Regions from separate parts of the Homo sapiens genome. Here regions 1 and 3 are each linked to region 2. The links come from fine-mapping of genetic effects on gene expression. A gene starts in region 2. Each other region holds a variant in brackets. All regions are shown on one strand. Distances are from middle to middle.

Region 1 (8,185 bases), 83 kb before region 2:
AGTGCTCGCTTTCCAGCCAACATGCAGCGACAAAGTCCAAACAAGTCCAAGTGGAGAGGCCACATGGGGAGGGACTGATGACCTCAGCCAACAGCCAGCATCCACCACCAGACATGTGAATGGACAAACCTTCAGAAGATTCTAGCCTGCAGTCTTCAGGGCTTTCAGCTGAGGCCCCAGACACTGTGGAGTAGAGTCAAGCCAGCCATCCTCTTGTCTCTGCTCCATAGAATTCCTCTGCCCTGATCAAATTCCTGACCCACAGAATGTGTGAGCCTAATACATGGCTGTTTTATGCCACTATGTTTGGGAATGGGGATGCGGGGGGAGGTAATTGTTATGCAACCATAGTAACCAGAGCATAGGTAGCCATTGACACCTAACTGATGAAAGACATCGAAACCAAGAAAATCAGATAATCACTTTGTAAAAATATATCAGTAGCTGTACTCTTGAGTTATGAACTCTGCAGTCTAAGAGCCAAGATAAACACCCTGCCCAAGAATTAGAAATTGCATAATTCCAGATTTCATATGTCTTTACTTGACTAATTCTCCACTACCATCCCCCTAAAGCCGGGGGTGTTCTAGCCAAGGTTGTCCAGGAACCACATAAAGGCCCCCAAACTGTAACCATAAAATCCATCCTCGATTTCCTCTCTTCCTGGGTCTCATCAATGGAAACAATGGTAGTGGTTTTTCAGAAGCCATGTGGGAAGATGGGCTATGAGTGCTATCATAGCAGATGTTAAGGTGCAGTCTCTAGACACGAACTTCCAAGAGTGTGTGCTGGCTGTCATGTCTAACATTTTTAAGTCAGCTAAAATTAGTGCATGTTTAAAAATGTTTAAAAAGTCCCCCTACCCCTCTCCCCATCCCCAGGAGTAATCACTTAACACTTGAGAGGACAGTGGCACATTCATCTGGCACAAGGCCCAGAATGAGACTGCCTGGCTTTGAATCCCAACTTTGCCACCAACTAGCTATGTGACTTTGGCTCCAGCTCTCTCATCTGTCAAATGAGGATAACTTACCTTCCAGGTTTTTGTGAGTTAAATGAGTTACTATAGATAGAGTACTTAAAGTGTCTAACACATACAAGGTCTCGGTGTGGTTAGGCTTTACTACTACTGCTGTGGCTCATACTACTATCACCATCCTCTTTATTACTAGCAGGACTTTCTGTAGCTTTGATGGGCTCAGGAAATGGCAAATGTTGGAAGAAACCCAACATTTCTTCCAGAGGTAGGGAGAGGACTCCCAGACCAGAGGGTGACCCATCTGGGTCCACTGACACTGTGGGATGGGAGGGCCCATATCACAGCTTTGCCTCAGGCTGGTCCTATCCATGCATTTAGGGGGGCTCGTGGGTTATTGAGCCCTTGGTGCATCTCTAGGTGTCACAAATCACATTTCGTAGCTTATTGCAGAAAAGTGAGAGCTAAACATGGTTCAAATATTTGATATAAGAAAAAAAATCGGCTGGGTGCAGTGGCTCACGCCTATAATCCCAGCACTTTGGGAGGCAGAGGCAGGCGGATCCCTCAAGGTCAGGAGTTCAAGATCAGCCTGGCCAACGTGGTGAAATCCCGTCTCTACTAAAAATAGAAACATTTGTTGGGTGTGGTGGCACACACCTGTAATCCCCACTACTTGGGAGGCTGAGGCAGGAGAATGGCTTGAACTCAGGAGACAGAGGTTGCAGTGAGCCAAGATCATGCCACTGTACTCCAGCCTGGACGACAAAAGTGAAACTCCATCTCAAAAAAGAAAAAAGAAAAGAAAAAAAAATCAACAAAACCTGGCATCATCCTAACAGTTTAGGAACTCTAACTAGTTGTGAGAAGAAAATGCACTTACCCAGTCCTTTTCAGGAAAATTCCTTCAGCTTTCATCTCTAGAACTCCATGAGGCTGTCCTTAAAAATACACCTAGTTCCTTCTGCTCACATTCACCATGCTTACTGGAATTAAGGATTCTTCACGCAGGCAATCAGTAAATGCTATGGAGGGAATGTGCCTGCAGCCTCCCGCAACCCACCCGCAATAGCAGCAGAGATGGAAATCTACAGTTTGGTCTTCTCAATAGGGTGGCCCTTGAGGAGCAGTCAGCCTATCCCCTCTGAATAGGTAAATTATCTGATCTTGTGAGCTGAGCATGGCTAACGACCTAGAAATTTCCTTTTTATATCAACTCAGATGCTTTGGCTACAAACAGAAAAACCTGAATAAAAGTCGCTTGAATAATAAGAAAAACTAGTTATCTCACTTAACCAGGAGAAGGAGGAAGTCCCAGGGCTGTCAGCTCTGGGACTCACAATGGTTTAAAGAGTCCAAGAGCTTTTTCATTAAAAAAACTTTTCCAACGTACACTCCTCCCCCATACTTTCTCTTACATGTCATTGGTTAGAGTTGTGTCACATGAGCATGCCAAAACCAATCCCTGGGAAGGAATTACCATGATCGTCTTAGACTCATCAGCACTCAGCTAAAGACTAGCCCAGTGTGGGGACCTGGGAGAACAGGGAGGTCAAGTATGTTGCAGTTAAGAAATTCATTTATCTTTCTTATTCCAAAAAGGCATCTTTGGTGATACATGCAGTTGGATGAGATAACATTTAATAGAATTAAATGATGATGAAGAAGCAAAGGAAACACAAGGCTACATAAAATGAACCCTGAAATATGATCAAGTATCAAAAATACACCCCATGCATCCTCTAAGTTTGCTAAGGGGAGACCACAAACATGGCTTTAGGCGTCAATTCAGGAAGGCTTTTCCAGAGGTTGCAAATGGGTGACTTGTGGGCCAAATGCAGCCCCCAGATATATTCCATTTGGGTTTTTGCAGTATTGTCTGTTTGTTATTGGTTGGCTGTCAGCCTTTAAAAAATTGGAATATTTTATATTTTTTTAAAAATATGTATTTCTGGCTTTTTTGTTTTTTTGAGAGGGACTCCCATTCTTTTGCTCAGGCTGGAGTGCAGTGGCACAATCTCTGCTCACTGCAACCTCCGCCTCCCGGGTTCAAGCAATTCTCCTGCCTCAGCCTCCCGAGTAGCTGGGATTACAGGCATGCACCACCACACCCAGCTAATTTTTTGTATTTTTAGTAGAGACAGGATTTCACCATGTTGGCCAGGCTGGTCTCAAACTCCTGACCTCAGGTGATCTGCCCACCTCGGCCCCCAAAGTGCTGGGATTACAGACAGCCATGATGCCTGACCATCTGGCTTCTCTTGTTTAAAAAAAATCAGAAGATGCAGCAGCACTAGGCCTCTTTCCCACCTGACAGGCGAAAGTAGCTGCCCCTCTAAACCTTACCTGTGCTCCCCACTTCTCCACGTGCCTTACCTGTTGCCTGCATTGTGCCCTGGGCCTTTGAGAGTGTGCCCGAGTTAGACAGCTTACAAGGTCCCTGGGATAGAAGCCAGCCAGTTCCTGACAAGCACAGATGAGCCTCACCAAGTGACCACTGTGGACTGTAACACACGCCCTCAGCTTCATCCTCACTGCAGACCCCTGGAAGAGCTCCCAGGGATTGTCCTTTATTATGGCTTTCTACACAAACCAGGGGATGGAGATGTAGGGAGTGGGCATGTGGCAGATGAGAAAGGGGTAAAATGTAAGCCTGGAAGTCATCTGCCACTCAGGGATTACTTTCCCAGAGAAAGCTTCCACAGTTGCTTCCTGTTTTGATAAGGCTGGGTCTACTGCAGAAGAGGAATCTGTCTCAGAAGACATGAGATTAAAGAGAATAAATAGGAAAGCATGCAGAATAAGACTAGGTTTGGATAACGATTCTCACTGTGAGAACAACTTGACAATCTGCCACTATGCTGAACTCTGATTTTCTACTCAACAGTTAAAGAGGTTTTGGATTTAAAGAGATGCTGCCTGCCTTCTGATTCAGCCTTTCTTGGCAGCCATATGTCTCCTGGTCCAAAAATGTCCACTGACTCCAGCAAGGGATTAAGAAATTCACACAAGAATTTTTTAGTCACGTTATTTTAAATGTGAAAGGCTTTCTCTAGAATCAGGTAAAGGGGTCCCGAGCAGATGTGTGCACAGATGGATGGGGCTTATCTGATTCCCTGTCCATCCACGCCCACACACTCCTGGCTGTCAGGAAAGGTTAGATGATGACAGTGACTCAGGAAGCCAAGAATGTGAATTATGTGAAATGAAGCCTGGATCCGCCCATGTAAGGTTACGGCTCAGCCCACCACAGCAAGCCTGAAAAGGAGA[C/T]GCCATCTTGCTTAAAAAACAAAGGAGGGGGGCTGGATTTTGTAACACTTTTGTGTCTGTGAAATAACATCCATCCAGTTTGCTGGACAGAGAAACAGAGAACGAGAGGGAGAAATGAGACCTACCTAGCAAACTTGCTTGGACCCCCTGCGGCATACATGCCAGCACACCCCGCATGCCCACTGACCCACCAGTCTTCACCCCACGGGTCTACATCAGAACGGGGAAAGGCCTCCACGGAACTGGAGTGGGAAGCCACTTACCAAGATGTCAGCTAAAGCAGTTGGATATCCACAGTCACATCATATGCTTCACTGAGCTCTTCAACAGCAGAGCAGTGAGCACAGGCGCCTCCCCACAGTGCAGCAAGTAGGGACAGCTGCTGTCCTCCTAGGCCTTGAGCAGAGGGTGGGGGGAAAGAGCTGAACTGATGCTGGCACCCAGCAGTTCAAGAAGAGGAAAGAGCAGGGGAGCTATAAGAAGAGCTGAGGCTAGGGCTGTCTGCCCAAGGTCAGGCCTCCTGCAGGCCCTAGAGTGGACCCCCAGGAAGCTCTGCCCCCTCCACCCACCCTCTTTGGTGCACGCAAGGTCCTTAGATGTATGTCTCTGAGGTTCATTTTGGCAAGAATTCACCAAAGCAGAGGTCCTTGAGGGAGAAGAAAAAAAGCCAAAAAAGCCATGGTGTGGCAAGATAGCAGAGTGAGGAAGAACTAGGGCTCCAGAGGGAGACAGCCTGGCTTTGAAAGTTGGCTCCACCTTGTGTCATCTTGGATGATGTGTTGAACCTCTCTTTGCTTCAGTTTTCCTACCTGTGAAATGGATATAATAATAGCCTATTCGAGGAATAGCAAAGGATTGCTATGGAGACAAAATGAGATAGTATGGGTAAATCTGGGCACAGTGCAGGGTACAAAGTTCTCAGTTACTGTGAGCTTCTTCCTGTTCCTAGCCTCCTCATCCCTGAAATGGACTTTAATATGCACAAAAGCATGACTGAAATTAACATATAAAACATAGAGCTTATCCCTGACTACAGTGAGTAAATGCAAGAAGTCAAAAGAGAGGATATCCCTGGCATATCTTGATAAAGTATAAAACACTATACAAATTTCAGAGTCCACTAAGAAGTAATTTTAGTAGTCCACTGAAGTAACTGCAAAGAGGCCTGATATTAATATCTTTCAGCATAGAGAAAAATAATCCAGCCAAAGTATGTTACATTCCTACCACATGCCTGTCACTACAAGGAGAAAAAGATATAATAATAATTATTAAGTTATACCTTTTGCATGCCAAGTACTGCCTACAAATAACCTTTCTTCCTTAAAATCCTTCAAGGTAGATTTTAATCTCCATTTTAAAAGTGAAGAAATTGAGACACAGAGGTTAAGCAACTTGGCCAAGTTCACACAATCAATAAGTGACTGAGTTGGGATTTGAACTTGAGTCTGTCTCATGACAATGGTAAAGATAATAGCACTGATTAAGTGTTTTCTAAATGCCAGGCAATGTGCTGACCTTTTACGTGCATTGCTTCATTTCATCTTCACACCAATGCTATGAGGCAGGTACTATTATTATGCCCACTTTACAGATAAGGAAAGATTAAGAAACCAGCCCAAAGTCTCATAGTCACATAGGGGAAGAATCAGGCATCAAGTCCCTGGTCAGGGTGACCCCAAAGCCCAGGCACTTGCCCAGTCACCACACTGCATCCTTTGTGTCCCAGCAGCAAGGGAGACATGACCGTTCTCAACGTGAAACTCTTCGTAATTTCAAGGGTCCTAAGTACACGTGGACAGCCTGGCTTCACCCTTTATGCAGAAAAGATTTTGATTTCTTTCTCTGCACTACAAATGGTTCTTAGAGAGCGTTTCCTCCTAGGAAAATGTGTTTAACATTCTCTGAAGGACTCTACTCTCAACCTCTCTTGAAAACCTAATAAACTCAAGGTCATGGAAAACATTGTCTCTAAGAACATATGGCTAAAAGAGAAAGAAGAGGCACTCAGTTAGCTTGGATTTTGAAGGGTTTTACCAAGAGAACACTGGAGTGGTTTTATTTGAAGTAATTACAAGAACTTCAAGCCTTCTAAGTGGCACAAGCCTTGCCTTTAGTGCAGATAAGCCTGTCATTTTTTAGTGCTACCAGTGGGATTCTTTTGTGGGCAGCATCTGCCTTAAGTGAAATCCTGATCCTTCAAAAGCACAACTTTCTTCAAGAGAAACAGGTGAAATAGGAATTGTCAAAACCCAGCGTTCCCTGCCCACCCTCCCCCAACTTTTCTCCTTATCAGCCCCCAACCTATGGTATTTACAAATCAAATCTCGTGTATGTGTGTGTATTTTTAGTAAAGATGGCATTTCACCGTGTTGGCCAGGCTGATCTCGAACTCCTGACCTCAGGTGATCTGCCCACCTCGGCCTCCCAAAGTGCTGGGATTACAGGTGTGAGCCACCATGCCCAGCCAAAATCACTTTTTAATTCTGCTACAAAGCATGGACAAGAAGAAAGGTGTAATTGTCCTTCAGACATGTGCTCTCTGATACAGCAATCACAAACCACAAGTGGCTATTTAAATAGAAATGAACTAAAGTTAGTTAAAATTTAAAATTCAGCTTGTCAGTCACACTAGCCACATTTCAAGGGCTTGGCAGTCCCTGTGGCTAGTGGCTATGGACAGCACAGATCTAGGATATTTCTATGATCATAGACAGTTCTTTGGGAGCAGTGCTGAGCTAGAAACTCCACTCAGGAATCTGAAAGGCCTGGAGCTTCTCCTATGGTTGCTGTTTGAGTTTCAGTTTTCCCAAAAGTAGATTTGAAGGTAAAGATTTGAGTGTGAGTAATTTATTCAAAAATTGCAGGGAATACAAGTGGGGAGGTGGCACGGGGAAGGCCAGGCAGCCAGTAAACCTACTTAAACCTGTAGGAAACTGAGAAATGGTGTAAAATACTCAACTCAGAATTATCCCATCCAAGCAGGAGTGAGCTGGGGTATTTGTACGCCAACCCTGAGGACTGCTTCTAAGGCTGTGAGTTTCCTAGTACTTCTGGTCTACCTGTGGGTAGGCAGAGATTTCAGAGATTGGGCTGGGAGTGAGGGCAGAAATTATCAATATCAGGCTCAGAGGCAGAGACTGGCAGAGGAAGTTGACCAGAGCACCCCCGCAAGTTCTGAGAGATGCAGATGCTGCATAACACCGTCTGGCTACAGAAATGCTTAAGAATCACCTTCCTCCCAGAATTTTGCCTAGAACATTATGTCCATGACCTTGATTTATGTCACTCTAAGAGGAGCAATCCAGCTCCTATGGCAGGAAAAGCTTAGGGGATGTCAAGGGAGAGGGAAGGAGAGAGCACAGAGAGAAAAGAAACTCAAGGATGTTCAGCAGGGCTGATTCTACATAGACTTAAGGGTGAATTGGTGGGGAAAACAGGGAAATGTTGTGCATCATCCTTGGTGTCTGGATTCTAGGTGTTGTGAGATGTACTGATACAGTTTGTCTGTGTCCTCACCCAAATATCATGAATTGTAGCTCCCATCTTCCCCACATGTCATGGAAGGACCCAGTGGTGGGTAATTAAATCATGGTGTGTGTGTTGGGGGAGGGGTAGTTTCCCATGCTGTTCTCATGACAGTGAATAAGTCTCATGAGATCTAATGGTTTTATCAAGGGCAGTTCCCCTCCACATGCTCTCTTGCTTGCCACCACGTAAGATGTGCCTCTGCTCCTCCTTTGCCTTCTGTCATGATTGTGAGGCTTCCCCAGCCACGAGGAACTGTGAGTCCATTAAACCTCTTTCCTTTATAAATGACCTAGTCTTGGGTATGTACTTATAGCAGCATGAGAATGGACTAATATATGTACCATGAAGGCTACAAGCCTGATCAAACTGTGAGATGCCCTGAGTGTCCCGTTCATGCATTGGCGTGTC
Region 2 (8,185 bases):
GTATTTTTTAATCTTAGTGGACATAAATGTGACTTACAATTAATGGCTCCTTAGACTCAATACAATATGCTATTAAATGTGAATGTCTATAAGACATCAGAGGGGAGATGAGTAGTAGGCATTTGGATATGTCAATTTGGAGATAGAAATGTGGGGGTCACCTGAAGCTTGCTATTTAAAGGCACAACAGTGAATGAGATTCCTTTGGAGAAAGAATATAAAGAAGACAAGAAGATCTAGGTTGCATGTGTGAGAAATCTCAACATGCAGAAGCGAGTGAAAGAGAAAGAGCTGGTAAAAAATAAATAAATAAAAATAAATCCATTTCTGTTCTAAGTTTATTGTTGCCATTATTGCTGTTGCTATTATTTGCCACTAAACATTTGTCAGAATAGTCTGTTTATTGGGAAAATAATATGTTGATTAATCACCAATTCTTTCATCCCCCCAAATCCTACATGAATACAAATAAACAAATAAGCCTTTCAGGTCTTTAGAGAAGCATTTTAATCTGATTGAGATTTTGGATAGAAAATAGGCACATGTTTATTGCATCTTAACCTTGGGTAATTGTCTAAAGGCAGAAGAAGAAAAACAGTCAGGAGAGTTACTGTAGCATTCACAATTAAAGCCAGCAATGTGTATAAAAATGCTTCTAAGGAGTTCATATCACATTTGCTGTCACATTTCTATAACATAAGTAGGACACCAGCTGGTAGTAATGCTAATTCATCCGCCTTTCATTTACTGAGTGTCACTTCACAGATGTTGAATCTTATCCATTCCTTGTTTCTTTTTTTTTTTTTTTTTTTCAAATTCCCTAACCATCACATAAAGTTACCATTATGCCATATCCTCTAGGCAGTGGTTCTGAATCAGGGGAGACTTTGACCCCCTGAGAACATTTCACAATGTCTGGAGACATTTTTAGTTGTCACAACTGGAGATGAGGTGCTACTTGGATAAGCAGGTAGGAGACAGGGATGTTGCTAAACATCCTACAATCCCCAGGTCTCACAGAGCCCCATAATAAAGAATCATCCAGCCCAAATTTCAACGGTGCTGAGATTAAGAAACACTACCTATGAGGATAAGTTACATGATAAGTACATGAACTTTCTGGGGGCAAAGTCAATAGCTTTCACCAAATTCTCAAAGGAGTTATGACTCAAAAACTTAAGAAACACTAGCTTGAATACATATTTCATCTAGGCCATGGTAAAGAGTGACATATTAACCTACTTCACAATAGGAGTCACCTCTTTAGTTAAGAAGACATATCTCTGCCACACAAATTTCACTGTCCCTTTCCACTGTCTACTGTCATTCACGGCTAGATAAACACAGATCTTTGAAGTTCCCATTTCTAGGGCCAACAAGTACCCATCCCTCTATCAGCCAGATTAACACAACCATTAAGGTTACAGTGACTATTAGTGACTAAGCTAGAGCTTCATGCTATGTCAATTTAAAAGCTGCTTTCTTCAGACATACTCGGTTCATTTGATCAATATCCATTTATTCAACGTCTACTATGTTTAACATACTGCGTATTCCCTGATGAAAATAATCTTACAATCTAGGACTAGAGAGTAATTTAAAACTGCAAGAAGGAAGTCAGAGCATAAAAAGTGAAGGTGAGAGAAGCTGAAATGAGGATGAAGAGGGAGAACTGAACACCCGGATCACTGCATGCCATGTTTCATTTCGTATTTTTCTCCACTCAAATGCAATAGGCAGCTAACTCCTTCCTGGCTAGTTTAAACAATTCTGTGGTATCTATAGCCCAGTCCAAGTCATTTGGGATATACTAATATTCAGCCAACATTTCCTGGGCACTGCCACGCAAACTTGGGAAACGGCACTACAGGCAAGGTGAGAACAGCCAATGCAAACACTTTTTTTTTTTCTCCTTTGTCACTAGTAGTTCTAATTAGAAACGAATGTGGCGGGGGTCGGGGGTAAGTATGCACAATAAAGCTGATGTCTAAAGTACTGTTTCCAGATATTCAGCAATTTTAATCATGGTTATAATCGCCATTGCTCTTGTCAGATATTGAAAGTTTGCTGCCACTGCCTGTAAATGGAGAGAGAGCGCGCGCAAAGAACTTTAACCATTCCCCGAAGGATTAGCAACTCAGTACCGTATATTGTTAGCAGTCAAACTAAACCCCTCCGGGAAGCCTGGCCAGCAATTTTTTTTTCTTTTTTTGTTTTTTTTTTTTTTTAGGCAGGGTCTCACTCAGTCGCCCAGGATGGAGTGCAATGGCGCGATCTCGGCTTACCGCAACCTTCACCTCCCGGCCTCAAGCGATTCTCCCACCTCAGCCTCCCGAGTAGCTGGGACTACAGGCGCGGGCCACCATGCTCCACTATTTATTTTATTTTATTTTATTTTTGTGGAGACGTGGGTCTCGCTATGTACTCAGGCTGGTCTGGAACTCCTGGGCTCAAGTGATCCTCCTGCCTTGGGCTCCCAAAGCGCTGAGATTACAGGCGTGAGCCACCGCGCCCGGCCTAGCCAGCAATTTTTAATACGACTTAGGCTTGAATCTTGAACTCACTAAAAGCCCCCAGCTTGGGAAAACACCTGGGGTTTCCATGGGAGTGAGGTAAAGGGCGGCTGTGAAAGAACAAAGGCTGTGCGTCCGCGTTCAGAGCCGCTGGGTCCGCCGGGCTCGCTGGGGGCCGGGGCCGCGGTGTCCTGGGTGGCGGGGCTCCGGGAATGTGACTCAGCCACCGCGGCCCCGCGATCCGCTCCCGGGCCAGCGCCTCAGTCGGTGCCGAGGAGGGCGGCGCCGAGACGGGCGCGTCAGCCTGGGAGGAGCGGGAAAAGGGTCGCAGCGCCTGAGGCCCGGCCGCCGCCCGAGTGGATGAGCGAGCGAGCGACTTGTGAAACACGCCGCGGCCCGGTCACCAACCAGGACCGGGATCACGTGGCTCCCAGGGCTGGGTGAAGAAGCCGCCCGGACCGAGCGCGCCGGAGAGGAGGGGCGCCTGGGGACAGAAGGCGACGTCCCCTGAAGTTTGTGTCAGCCAGGGCCCGCCCCCTCGCGCTTATGTAATAGGGGCGCGCTGCCATTGGCCCGCGCGACCAGCCAGGGCGCAGGCGTGCGAGCGGGGTGGGGGCCAGAAGGAGGCAGCCGCAGAAAGGCACATGGGCGGGGCTGCGAGGAGCAGGCGGGGCGGGGGCGCCGAGGAGAGCGGCGCGGCGTGCGCGGGCACGAGGCGTAGTGGTCTCCCCTAAGGCTGAGGCGGCGGCGGGCGCGCGGCGGCGGCGGGCGTGCGAGGCTGTTGTGCTCCCGGCTCTCGTGTTTCCCCTCCTGAGCGGGTGGAGGAGGCCCAAGCGGTGCTGGGCGCGCTCCCCCTTCCTTTCCCTCCGGCGTCCTCTCCCGGCCCTCTCGCGCTGCACTGTCTCTCCGACGCAAGACTGTCCCGGCCCGGGTGAGCGGCAGCGGGGGCGGTGCTGACGCCGCGGGACGCCCGGGAAACGGGGCGGGGGCCGGCCAGCGGGGGGCGGTGGGGACCGTGGGACTCGCCGCGGGTCGCGAGGGGTCGCGGGGGGCGGCAGGGCCCGGCCCGGGGCGGGCCGCGGGAAGGGGATGAGTTCGGGCGCCTGCCAGGCCCTGCAGGTGGCCGGGTCGCAGGCCAGCCGCGGAAGCGGAGCGGTAACCTTACCCCCGGCGACAGCCGCCGGTCAGCTGCCAGAGTGTGGCGCTCCCGGTGGACGCAGGGGCCGGGTTTCGGGCAGTCTCGGCCTCCAGGAGGCGCGTCTTGGTCCAGGGTCCGTGAGGACTGGCTAGATGGGGGCTGCGTGGCCTTTGGTGGCAGGGAGGAGGAGGGGGTCTCCGAGGCGGGAGAGGCGGGTTTGGGAAGGAAGGTGCGCCAGGCTGAAGCTGGGGTCGGAGAAGTGTTGGGTGGAGACCTCACTGTGGGTGCGTTCCTCCTCTCCTCTCCCCAAAACGATGGTGTTAAAAGCTAGGGTCAGGATGTGGAGCGCTGCCTGGGCCTCTTCCTTTCCGATGGTTATGGAGAATGAGCCTACTTCCTGGACCCAAAATCCTTTTCTTCTGTTACTCATTTATGTTGGTTTTAAAAGGAGCTTTGGGGCAGAGCTTACTTGTTGCCTCCTACGAGAGCGCCTCATTTTAGAACTCGTTTCTTCCACTACTTCCCTCTTTGCAGCCCCCTCGGAAAACCACACTGAGAGTTGCATTAAAAACCAGCATGTAGGTATTTGTAAGTGACTTTTTCCCTCCAGTTTGTCGCATTTAATCAAGGAGCGGTTGTAGCTGCCTACGATTTTGTAGAAAATTGTGTTGGCTTGAGAGCAAGTCCTAAGTTGAGCTGTCCAAAAGCAGGTGGTTGGTTCGTTTGAATTTCTGCTTTCAGAAAGGAAATCGATGGGGCGTGTTGTCAGAAGTTAGGGGCCTACCTCATGCATTTAGCTTATTTTATTCCATTTCCTTTACCTGGTGTTAAGTTTTCTGTCTTCAGAATAAGAACAAGTGACTACTGTCTTTATTAAGTCTCTTCGGTCTTTTTGGTTGCTGTTTGGTGACAATGGAAAATGGGTTGAATCTATTGTGTAATGTTATATTTTAGGGAAAGTCCTAAGTGCAAAAGTTAAAAATAATTTTGTGTGTCTAATGACATTGCTTTGTACGAGTCACAACATGGAAATATCAAAATAGCTAGTAACTTCTAGAAAGCAAAGGAACTTCTGAAATTAGTGGCTTACCATTTTTGAAGATTTTTTTTAACATAAAACAAGATTTCCCACAAAATCAGTGTATTAAGATACATAAAATACATTGTGTCGAAGAGTTAAGATGTGTGAGAAGACTGGCTATTTTGTTACAAGGTCCTGATAGTAAGACATTGAGACAAAAAACCTTGCAAAACATTGGTATACATAAAGGCTGATCACGTGACTACTGTCGTCCAAATAATACATAAGTATCCAAACCTGTTTCCATGGGAATAGGTTTGTAAGCTTGCGGTAACATCGGACTTAAATACACTTTTAAAAAAAATGTGCCATTTGGCTTAGAATTAATAATTTTTTTTAAAGCAAAAATGGAAGCTTAGTCTTCAAGGACTGATAACAGCTGGTAATATTTACCATTGTTTGGTGGGAATGGGGTTCTCATATTAGGCTAGCACGCTAAACATTTTCAATTACGAAAATGTATTAGGCTCGTGTGCTACCCTAATATAAAAACCCCATATTTCCTCAGTTGAAATAGTCAGCTGACTATCCTGAAAAGCATTGACCCTCTTTTATATTTTATCTGACTTTCAGTTCATTTTTTTAATGCTAGTGGGAACTTCTCCAATCAGTGTATTTTTTTAGTTTCCTTTTTTGGGGAACAGGAGGAGCTCAGTAATTTTTATGAAATGCTTTGACCTCATATCCATTAACTAATTATGGTCCTAGTCAGAAGAAGCTAGCACCCTTCCCTGGTGAAGTTGATACAAATCCATTGTATGTTCCTGTCCTGCAATGATTTACATTCAGTTACAGTACTAGTCAAAACTATATATATATGAATTCTACTTAGGATCCAATTTTGATATATTTAAAAAGCAATTGAGACTCATGATAGACTTTATGAGCAGGTTTAACTTGTGTGGTCGAATAAAAGCCTTTAATTTAAATGGAAAAGTAAAAGTAACTTTTTTCAGTGACTTGATTTTTTTTTTTGTTTTAATCCATTTGGGTTCACGTCAGATCATCGGTAACAAAAAGTGGTATCTTTCAGCTTTGTAAAAGAACCCTCTTAACCAAGTTCATTCCCTCAAATGGGAACTAACGTCTAGAGAGCAAAGAAACTTCTGGAATTAGTGGCTTGCTGATAATCTCATTTTATAATTTGTTCAGCAATCCAGCAAGACCAACTTTTTAAAAAAATTAATAACAGTAGTTTTATGAAAACTAAGTAAGAAAACAGTTTCCACCTATTTCTGAGGTCTCCTTTAGAAGGAGTAACAGACAGCTTTTATTTCTCTTAAAGTTATAAAAATCACAATCGCAAGTCACAATGAATACTGGGAAGGGAAATTACTTTTGCAGAGTGATCAAGTAAATGATAGCGGGGGCTAAACTTTTTTAGTAAACTTGTGAAGATTACATACAGTAAAGTGCATAAATCTTGAGTGTACAATTCAATGAATTTTTATAAGTAAACACACTTGATTCAAGAACATTTTCAGGACCCCATAAGTCCCCTTCATGTCCTGTCTTCCCAGTCATTACCCATAACCCCCAAGGTGACCCCTTTCACTATAGATTAGCTTTGCCTGTTTTGAACTTTAAATAATGTATATTCCCCACAACTGGCTTCTTTCCTTTAACATTGAGATACAACCAAGTTGTTACTTGTAACAATTTTTTGTTTGTGTGTTTGTTTATTTATTTTTGAGACCAGAGTCTCACTGTCGCCCAGGCTGCAGTGCAGTGGTGCCATCACGCGTCACTGCAACCTCTGCCTCCCGGATTCAAGCAATTCTCCACCTCAGCCTCCCAAGTAGCTGGAATTACAGGTGCCTACCACCATGCCTGCCTAATTTTTTTTTTTTTTTTTTTTTTTTGTATTTTTAGTAGAGACAGGGTTTCACCATCTTGGCCAGGCTGGTCTTGAACTCCTGACCTCATGATCCACCCGCCTTGGCTTTCCAAAGTGCTGGGATTACAGGCGTGAGCCACCGCGCCTGGCCACAATTTTTTAAATGCTGGGTAGTATTCCGTTGTATAAATACTATAAAAATATGTATACAAGTTGTGCATCCGTGTTACTATTGATGGGCATTCAGATTTTTTCCAGTTTTGGAATGGGCACTCAGAACATTTTGTACATGTCTTGGTGTACATAACATTTGCATTTCTATTGGGTATATACCAAGAGTGGAATTGCTGGCTCATAGAATAAACAGCTACCAACTAGTTTTCCACAGGGTTGTGTCAATTGATACTTTTGTAGCATTTATATGTGGGAATTTTAATACCTATAAATTTTTATTTGCCAGATATTTCTATAAAACTTAAGGCTTCAATTCTAAGAACGTTCTTATGCTTTGATTACTCTGTATTAGAGTAAATAAGCCACTCTAATGCTTCACCTTCTGTTTTTAGATATGGCTCGTGGACAGCAGAAAATTCAGTCTCAGCAGAAAAATGCCAAAAAGCAAGCTGGACAAAAGAAGAAACAAGGACATGACCAAAAGGCTGCTGCCAAAGCTGCCTTAATATATACCTGCACTGTCTGTAGGGTAAGGGGAATTGAATTGAAAGATACAGCTCTCCCGTGGGCAGTTTTGGCTTGAATAGATTAAAATTTTGAAACCATGGCAAAATAGATGCTTTACATGAAATAGTAGGTTTGAGAGCTGATTATTTTAGGTATCTATTTTCATTCACCCTTTAAACAAATATTTTTTGAATGGCTCCTGTGGCCAGGCAAAAATCTCTAGGTGCTGGGAAAACAGAGTGAACAAAACAAAATTGCTTTCCTCATATAAAATAAAGATGTCTTCATAAGGGCATATAATACACTTCACTAGCACATCATATAACTCTACACTCTTAGAGCTATATAATATGCTAGTAAGTATACCTCTAGTTATATAATTGGTTTTTTCTTCACTAAATTTATAATTAGGATGTCTGTAAAACCATATAGAGTATAATCACGTTGAGAGCTTTTCCTAGAATTAATGTGTTGTATTAGATTTGAAGAACTGTAATAATAACAGCTACTTTTGAGTGCTTACCATATGCCACACATAGAGCCAGGTGTTTTACATGTATTCACCTATTTAATCCACATAACAACCCTATAAGATAAAGTACTTTTATTGTTCTCATTTTACAGAAGAGTAAACTGACTAATGGAAATTAAACAATTTGTGTGGGGTCTCCCAGCTGGTTAGTAGAAGAGCTGGAATCTGAACTCAGGCAGTTCAGCTCCAGAGTCCACCCTCTGGACCACTACTGTACTGCCTCTCAAAGAAGTACTTCTGAAATTCCAAATCAGAGCCTCTTGCCTGTTTGTTTAAGCTCATTACCCTTGAAGTTAGTGAGTGGCAGTACCAAAGGAAACCATAGTGGAGTTAGTACACTACATATACACTCAAAATAATGAAATTGAGCAGCTTGTGATTGTTTGGAAAGAGGCAGGGTGCA
Region 3 (8,185 bases), 550 kb before region 2:
TGTCAAAACCAGGCTCATGGGACTGGAGCCATAACCTTGGGTCAGCTTGTTTATTGCCCACCATCTTTGACTTGACCAACCCCTTGGGGTCTGGTGTGGCCTTGGGAACCGCAGTGTCTAAATGCAAGCGCCACTGCCCTTAATTGAACTACTAAGGGAGAGTAAGTGCTAGGTATTGTTTAATCAGGGATCAGCCCAGTCTCTCCCTCTACCTAAGCCTGCCATGTGCCCTTACTGATGATACATTTTTATCTGATGCCCCGAATGACAGATGTTACTACTCTCGTCAAGTTTTGGGAGTAGCTGTACATTTTTATATTTTTTGCACAAAGGAAGTGACTGTAGCTCCTGGAAATTCAGTCTGGTCACCTGAAACTTTGGTAATTTTGTCTGGTCTTCTTTGAGGGATGTATGTCTAGTAATGCAGTTCCCTGTTCCTTGGCCCCCAGGACTCCTTATTGTGTGGCAGAATTGAAATAATTGCAGGAAAGAGAACATTGCTCTCCTAGCCCTGACAGCAGGCAGGTCCCTGGGATACCTTCAAGACCCACTTTGAATTCAGATGACAAGTCCTTCCAGAAAATAATCTGGGATGTTTTCCTCATTTTACTGCATACAATTTTCCCCATTGGTGTATCAAGATATTAAAAGCAATCCCTGTCTCTCTCTTTCCTCCTCCTCCTCTTCCCTGACTCTCTTCTTCCTTCCCTCCTTTTCCCCCTCTCCCTCTCTCAGTTTCTTTGTCTTCGAAGACACTGACAACTTTCTGGCATGTCGCCTAGGCTTAGGAGAGTGAATCTTTATCAAAATTTCTTCTAGCCATTGGCTTGGAAGTACTATATAAATCAGCAAGACACTTTGTTATAAAACTTTCTCATTATCAACATTCACTACTGTTCCATTTTATGAATGCTTCTTTGTCTTCCAAAAAGCATTTCGGATTAAGCAATGCTGTTATTGAAAATGTGGGCGGTTTCTGCTGGTGTGCTTGGCTGGTTGAATTATAGATGGTTGTCACGAATATCACAATGCCAGGTTCCTATAAATGAGTTAAAAATATTGATGTATGAAGTAAGTTGGGGATGGCAAGTGGAGATTCAGCATCCTTATTATCCAATTGGGCCACTGGATTTGTACTTTGTAGTAAAAGAGCTCTAAGATCTACATGTGATGCAACTCTCCAATTTAAGTAGGTTGGGATCTTTCTTATTATTGGATGCACAGATTCAAATTAAACTACAAAAAAAAAGTATTTTACACATCCTGTGTCCCAGCACTATGCTAGACACTAGAGATGAACAGATATATAAACACCAGGCCTGCTATTGAGGTGTTCATAATCCTGTGAGGGAACTCTAATCTGTAGACAGAACTCTCTTGCAATGTAATGAATACCATAGACAGGTCCGAGAGGTATGAGAGGTGCATGCCTAGAGTCAGGACACATGGGGACAGAAGACATGTGGTGGATGTGGTGAGTAAGAGCACCTGGTCTTTGATGACAGACATATAGGGTTAAATCCTGGATCTGCCATAATTCATGGGAGGAACAGATTACTGAATGAATTAATACATAGCTTTTATTGGTATTGGGATTCAAGGAAATACTGCAGTGTTATATAAAGTGCTCAAGACAGTATTTGTCACCCAGGATCAATGGTGATTTGTCATTGGAAAGTAAGCACTTGTTTCAGGCTTTATTTGGTGGGAATCCAGGCAGGATGAGTAGGAACAGTGGAGACTGGGATGTCAGCAGGAGACAGCCTATGGAGGGGGAGAGCTGGGGCCTGCTAAGAAGGGCCTGCCTTTCTGTGGAGTTGGAGCAGGAGCGGGTGGAGAGAGGGTCAAGTGCTTTAGGCAAGGCAGGCTGGGGCCAGATTACAAAGCCATTTGTAGTATTAGACTGAAGGATCAGACATGACATTGAAGACAGTGGGGATTTATTGGTATTGGTGAGCAGGAAAGTGGCATAAAGAGATGTGAGTTTAAAAATCAGGCAGTATGGTAGTTCACACTTGTAATTCCAGTGCTTTGGGAGGCTGATGCAGGAGGAATGTTTGAGGCCAGGAGTTTGAGACCAGCTGGGCAACATGGCCAGACCCCATTTCTACAAAAAATAAAAAGTTATCTGGGTGTGATAGCACACAACTGTAGTCCTAGCTACTTGGGAGGTGGGAGGCTCTAAAAAAATTGTTAAAATAGCCTCTCTGATGGTTGGGTTAGGAAATGAGTACAGTAGTGCAAACAAGAAATTATGTTCACATTTACTTCACTATATTTGTTGAAGGCCTACTGTGTCCCAGGCACTTTGCTAGGTATAAATGAAGGTAGAGTGGAGGCAAGGTTAATTAATACAGGGATAGAGAAAGGGGAAACACTATAATAAATTTTTAGGTAAAATTGATATTAAAAAAAAACCCTACCATCTAGAACTGGGGTGATGAAGAAGGCCAAGTGAAAAATTATTTCACAAATTCATGAAAAAAATGAAATATTTTTGGAACATTGGAATTCAAAATACTTCATTAGACCTGGGAATAAAAAGAATGACAGCCATTTTTCTTCTTGCTCTTCTCTACCTCCTTCTTATTCATTGGGGAAAGTCACAGAAACTAGAGATGACTGGCCCTCTATGAGTAGTTGTCTCTGCAGCCCTCAGAGGTCAGGACATGCTCTGTTTTAAGTTCCGGAGAGATAAGGACAATGGAGCGAACAGTTGGAAAGTAACACATAGCTTTACCTAGTATTCTCATGGCTTGCCATAGCACCTTGAATGTTCAGTTACTTTTCTTTTTAAAAGAGAAACTAGTACTTGACCTTAGAAAGTTGTTTTCTGTTGAAATGGAAATGTTATGAGAGGTTCTAGTGAATAATGGAAAATGTGAGGTTATTTGATGAGAGGTTGAGGACAGGATCTGAAGGCCATGGTGGGTAAACAGTAGGAGTGAGCAGCGATGTGTAAATATTGACATGGAACTCAGGAGGAAGCAAGAGGAAGAAAAAAGGATTATGGCATGAAATAGTTTTTGCTTATTGGAAAAATGTTGTTCCTAAAGAATAATAAATCTTAAAGAAAAGACAGAGACATAAGAGACTAAGAAGGGAGCCAGTATTGTCTTTGATTGTGTTCATCCTTCCAGAAGTTCTCAGCCACACCCATGTTGGAAAGGTGGTCATGGTACTGTGGCATTATTCATTGCCAGGTGAAAAAGTCAGTCAATTCCTTATGTACTGCATAGTAGAGATTCTAATAGGATAAATTTAATAATTGCAAAACAAGACATACAATGTATATCAAGCCATATTCTTACCAGAAAAATCTCATCCAGTCAGATTCTCTTGTCAGGTGCATTTGTAACTGGTGAGAACCACTCACAAACGGCAGTGCAGGTAAAGTTGCATCCCTCTTATTTTAGTTAATTCTTCGGAAATCCAATATACCTCATTAGCAGGCAAACCAGTATCTCTGTCTTGTTCTTTTTCCTCCTCTTAATTGTCCTGAAATCTCCAGGGCTTATTCC[G/A]TGCAAAGATGGCCCTTGACTTCCAAATGCATAGCATAGACTGCTGAGGTCTCATTGGTCTACCCTGCACTTGCTTTTCACTGCCACACAGTGGCGCTGTTGAACACGGGCCAGGTACAGTCTGATACTCATTGCCTATCCATTGTTGCAGGGAATCCTAGCTGGTCGTGCTGACCATTCAGGCCAAGAGAATGTGCCAGCCAGGAGAGTTTACCTATACAGTGACATCTTGGGTCTCAGGACAGCCCCAGTTGTGCTGAGTGAAGTCCTCTTAATGATCTGTCACCTCATGGAAGCTTTCTCCCAAGGTCCTTCACCAAAACAGTGAACCAGCTTTTCTGTTAAATCCTCAAAATAAAGGACCTTGAAACACTTATCTCCATAGACAATGGAGCCACTAGCGGTACATTTATACTCATCAATGAGGCCACTTCTGATCTGATTTTCTGACATTTGTCTTGATTTAAAAAAAAAAAAGGTGGGGGAAGGGAGATGGACAAAAACTTAATCTCTGGCAGGTCCCGTCTGATGACAGCTCAGCACACAGTGTGTGTTTAGGAATTGTTCTGCTTCTTATTCTCCCCACATCAGTCATGATTCCAGAACTTGAAGTGGTTCAAAGTGAGCTCATAGTAGCATTTAACCTGTTGAGAATCTCTTGTCACCACTATATGTTTTCACTGGTAAAAGAGTCATCTGATTTACTGTGTGTCCCCACATTCACAATGCATACATATTCACACAGGACATGGAAGCCAAAAGTAAATGGTTAGTCACAAAAGGTTTGTTTTCTCCTATTTTGCTGTTTACAAAGGAGTGTTATCTTATGTTGGAAAGGATTTCAGCCAAGAACAGCAGTGAGGCTGTAGGAGCAATGTTACAATGTATTTCCCTGGCTTTTTAAAACCTATTCCCTGGTTTCTGCCTGCAAGCCTTAGGATGTGAGATGCGGGCTGGAAAAGCTGCTGGAGGGTAAAGCAGTAATAGAAAAAAGAAGATATTTTGAGAGACAGGAGAAGATAGGGTGAATGGTGGAGGAAAGAGGTAAGGAAGAGTCATGAGCATGAAAATGATCTGTGTCCCAGCATTGATCATGAACCCTGATGGCTGTTGGATCCATCTTTAGGCAAAGACAGCTGTGCTGGGCGTGGTTGACAGAGCATATCTGAAACAGGCCAAATTGAACTCTTGTTTACCATGATTAAGGTGACTATATAATTGATTGTCCAAACGGGAATACTTCTGAGAGTAAAAAGGAACATTACTAATACTGAAGTTGGGGCAGCGGTATCAACTGGGACTGTTGAGGGCAAACCAGGAGTTAGAGTCATTTGTATTTTGAAGGTAGTTTCTTTAAAAATCAAGACTTTAACTGTGAACAGTGCATTATTCTGATTGCTATGTTAGCTACAAACAAAATAAGATGGTGCCACCTCAAAGAATTGACAGTCTAGTTGCAGAGATGAGACTCACACACAAAGAAATTATCAGTCACCATCCAAGGTGGTGTCTAACCAAGTACCAAATAAGTGATAGTATAGTCATAGGATGTGCTAGGAAGGGCACTGGCCTTGGAGTTAGAAGACCTGTCTGGATCGCTCTTTAGCAGAGTGACCTTGTGTAAGGTACTTAATCTCTTGGAACATCCATTTATTTTTTGACTGATTGATTCATCCATCCATTCATTCATTTATTCATTCATTCATTCATTCAATAAACATATGGACTGGCCCTGTGCCGAGTGTATCTTGGTGGTAAAGAACACAGCCTTTACAGAGAGACACCTGGGTTCAGGTTGTACCTCTGTCACTACCTGGAGACCTTGAACTTAACCCTCCTGAGCTTCAATTCCCTCATCTGTTAGATGGTGATAACACCTGCTATGGTCTGAATGTTTGCATCCCCCAAACTCATATGTTGAAATCCTAACCCCTAAGGTGATGGTATTGGGAGGTGAGACCTTTGAGAAGTGATTATGTCATGAATGGGATTAGTGCCCTTATAAAAGAGGCCCCAGAGAGACCACTGCCCCTTCCACCACATGAGGACACAGCAAGAAGTTGCCCTCTATGAAGCAGGAAACCAGCCCTCATATCAGATATCAAATCTGCTGCCACCTTCATCTTGGACTTCCCAGTCTCCAGAACTGTGAGGAATAAATTTCTGCTGTTTGTAAGTTCCCCAGTTTATGACATCTTGTTATAGCAGCACCAATAGACTAAGACAATACCCAACTTGTAGAGCTGTTGTAAGATATTGTAAATGAGAGAATAAAGTCAGATTTTGTATAGGAAACATCCAACAGTTTCCAACATACAGAAAAAGCCCAAGAAATGATAGCTAAATGATAGCTAAAATTATTATTCCAGATACTGTACTGGTTGCTGGAAATGCAAAGGAAAGCTAGGGAGAGGGCTCTACCTTGCAGGTGAAAGCAGAGAGTGGTACCTGTCGACACACCCCCCAGGGCTGTTAGGAGGGTCCAATGAGGACATAAGGTGAAAGCACTTCACAGGCTCTGACATGCTGTGCAAAGGAAAGACCTCACGGTTCTTACCAGTGGTTGGGGCATTGTCTGGATCCTTCTCTTTTCCTATTTATTAGGATGCTGTCAACTGTAAATAAGAGATAACCCAAAATATCTTAAATCATATGTTATCTCACAGAACAAGAAGTCCAGAGGTAGAGTGCTTCCAGGATTGGCTAATTCTGTGGTTTAATAATGCCATCAGGAGTCCATAATTCCACTCTGCTAATCTCAGTTCTTGGTTGACTCACCCACCTCAGAGTGATACATTGGCTGCATCAGTTCCAGGCATTTCATCCTCACCACACCACGCACTAGACGCAGAAAGAGACTATCCCTTCCTTGTGTCTTAAGATCTAAGAAGCCCTTCTTGGAACCCCACCCCTACCCTTGCAGACTGACTTGTCCTATTGGCCAAAATTGGATCCCAAGTCCCTTCCCAAGCCAGTCCATGGTAAGATAAAGTTATTGTAACTGCCTTACGCTAATCAATATCTATTCTCTGGGGACTGGGGATCTTTTCATCTTCCCTAAAAACATGACATTGTAGAGGGTGTAAAATTCCTGAACGAAATCAAGTTTTTGTTAACAGGAAAGTGAAGAGAAATGGTTGTGGGTAACCACCAGCAGTGTCATATATTGTCTCTACAGGTCCAGTTCCTAATTCTACCTTAAAAATACCTCTTAAATTCACATTGGCCTTTGTCCAGGTTCTCAATATCTCCCATCTACGCTCTTGATTCCTTCTCTCTCTTCTTATCCCACCCATCTGATCTTCCCTTCATCCACCAGTCAGCCCTTTATACAATTCAAGCCCGATTATACCATTTCTTAACTTTAAGATTCTCAAGACTCAATTCGGATGCAACCACCTCTTTGAAGGTGCCCTGGATGTTTTATTTATGTCTCTTTTATAGCCCTAATAAGAGACAGTCATGCATTTGAATTATTTGTATATTCTCTGTGCCTCCCGCTATCTTTCCTGTTCAACATGGTACCATTGGCCACATGTGGCTACTGAGCACGTGAAATTGAGCATTGAAATTCAAATTGGGATGGCTTGTAAGAATAAAATACATGTTGAATTTCAGAGATTTAGAACAAAAAAAGAGGATCGTAAAATATTTCATTGGTGACTTTTAAAATTGTTACATGTTGAAATTCCATTTTGGTTAAATAAAGTTTTCTTCTTAATTTTCAATGTGGTGACTAAAATATTTCAAATTGCATACATCATTTGACATTTGTAGCTCACATTATATTGCTGAGCACTAGATTGCTAGCTCTTGCAGAGCAGGGCTGTACCTTATTTATCCGTTATTTATCACACCAGCTTTCTTTTTCTACCTTATGGTCCGTTAGCATTGGAACCTAGTCCAAACACTTTACTTGGTGAAAATAAAGCTTAAGAAAACTCAATTTGGGGATGAAAGAGCACAAGATAATTTCATGTTATTTGACCACCACTCCTGGATTTCTGATACATAGGTTATCTTTTGTGTGTTCCAACTCATCTAAGCTTTTAAAATTTGCCAGGTTTGGAAATCACTCTTTGTTGTGGTTACTTCAGGCCACTAAGTTGTTATGGACTAATCCAAGTTGAAAAAAGAGAGAAACTAGAATTTAATTATTTTGGTTAGGTTTGTTTTTCTCTGTTAGTTTTTAATTCTTCCACTTAGATGTTCCTCAACAAATTATATTTTACTTTTTTAAGGTAGTGGTGCTGTCTCCATGACTATAACCTCTAGAATATTTTAGTTATTTTTACAGTTATTAGAAATAAAGAAGCAGATGTAAGTTATGCTTTCTATTCAACTTCACTGAATTATAGCTGGAAGTTGCATTTTTTATGGATGAATTATATATATTTTACTGTTTATTGTATTCTTAGCAAGGATCATTTAGAAGACCAAGAAAATGACCATATTATACAAAATATTTAAGAGAAAACCTGTTTCTAATGGCATAATAAAATCGGAAACTTTAAAATATATATTTAATGAGCAGAAGTAATGGAATTAAGTTTTATATTTACAGTAGCCAAAACATGCCATTGTTTGGGGGAAATAATCTTTTTCTGGAAATGCCTGATAAATTTATACTTCTAACTTGGAAATAAATAATATTCGTGGTCATA

Direction of the effects. Alleles are on the strand shown, and positions count from the first base shown. SD is a standard deviation of normalised expression in the study named. Not every link is listed here.
With allele T in place of C in region 1, the expression in tibial artery of the gene that starts at base 3,206 in region 2 is higher (small effect, 0.21 SD a copy in GTEx).

Evidence for each region. PIP is the estimated chance that this variant, and not a neighbour inherited with it, causes the effect.
Region 1: its variant is fine-mapped to the expression of ZNF706 in tibial artery (GTEx, PIP 0.98).
Region 3: its variant is fine-mapped to the expression of ZNF706 in nasal epithelium (TOPMed, PIP above 0.99).

Annotation. Positions count from the first base shown.
Region 1 is chr8:101,284,134-101,292,318 of GRCh38, reverse strand. The region is part of intron 4 of LOC107984005 (a long non-coding RNA gene); the gene reads right to left. Among named protein-coding and RNA genes, the nearest start is that of LINC02844, 25 kb to the right of the region's middle. RefSeq lists an enhancer at 3,730-4,929. The variant C/T (reference allele first, on the strand shown) is at 4,247.
Region 2 is chr8:101,200,694-101,208,878 of GRCh38, reverse strand. It overlaps ZNF706 (zinc finger protein 706), which reads left to right and starts at 3,206. Exons shown (of 4, transcript NM_016096.5): 1 at 3,206-3,444; 2 at 7,136-7,272. The coding sequence starts at 7,138. RefSeq lists silencers at 2,642-2,861, 3,072-3,671.
Region 3 is chr8:101,751,898-101,760,082 of GRCh38, reverse strand. All of the region lies in intron 1 of NCALD (neurocalcin delta), which reads left to right. Among named protein-coding and RNA genes, the nearest start is that of NCALD, 35 kb to the left of the region's middle. The variant G/A (reference allele first, on the strand shown) is at 3,522.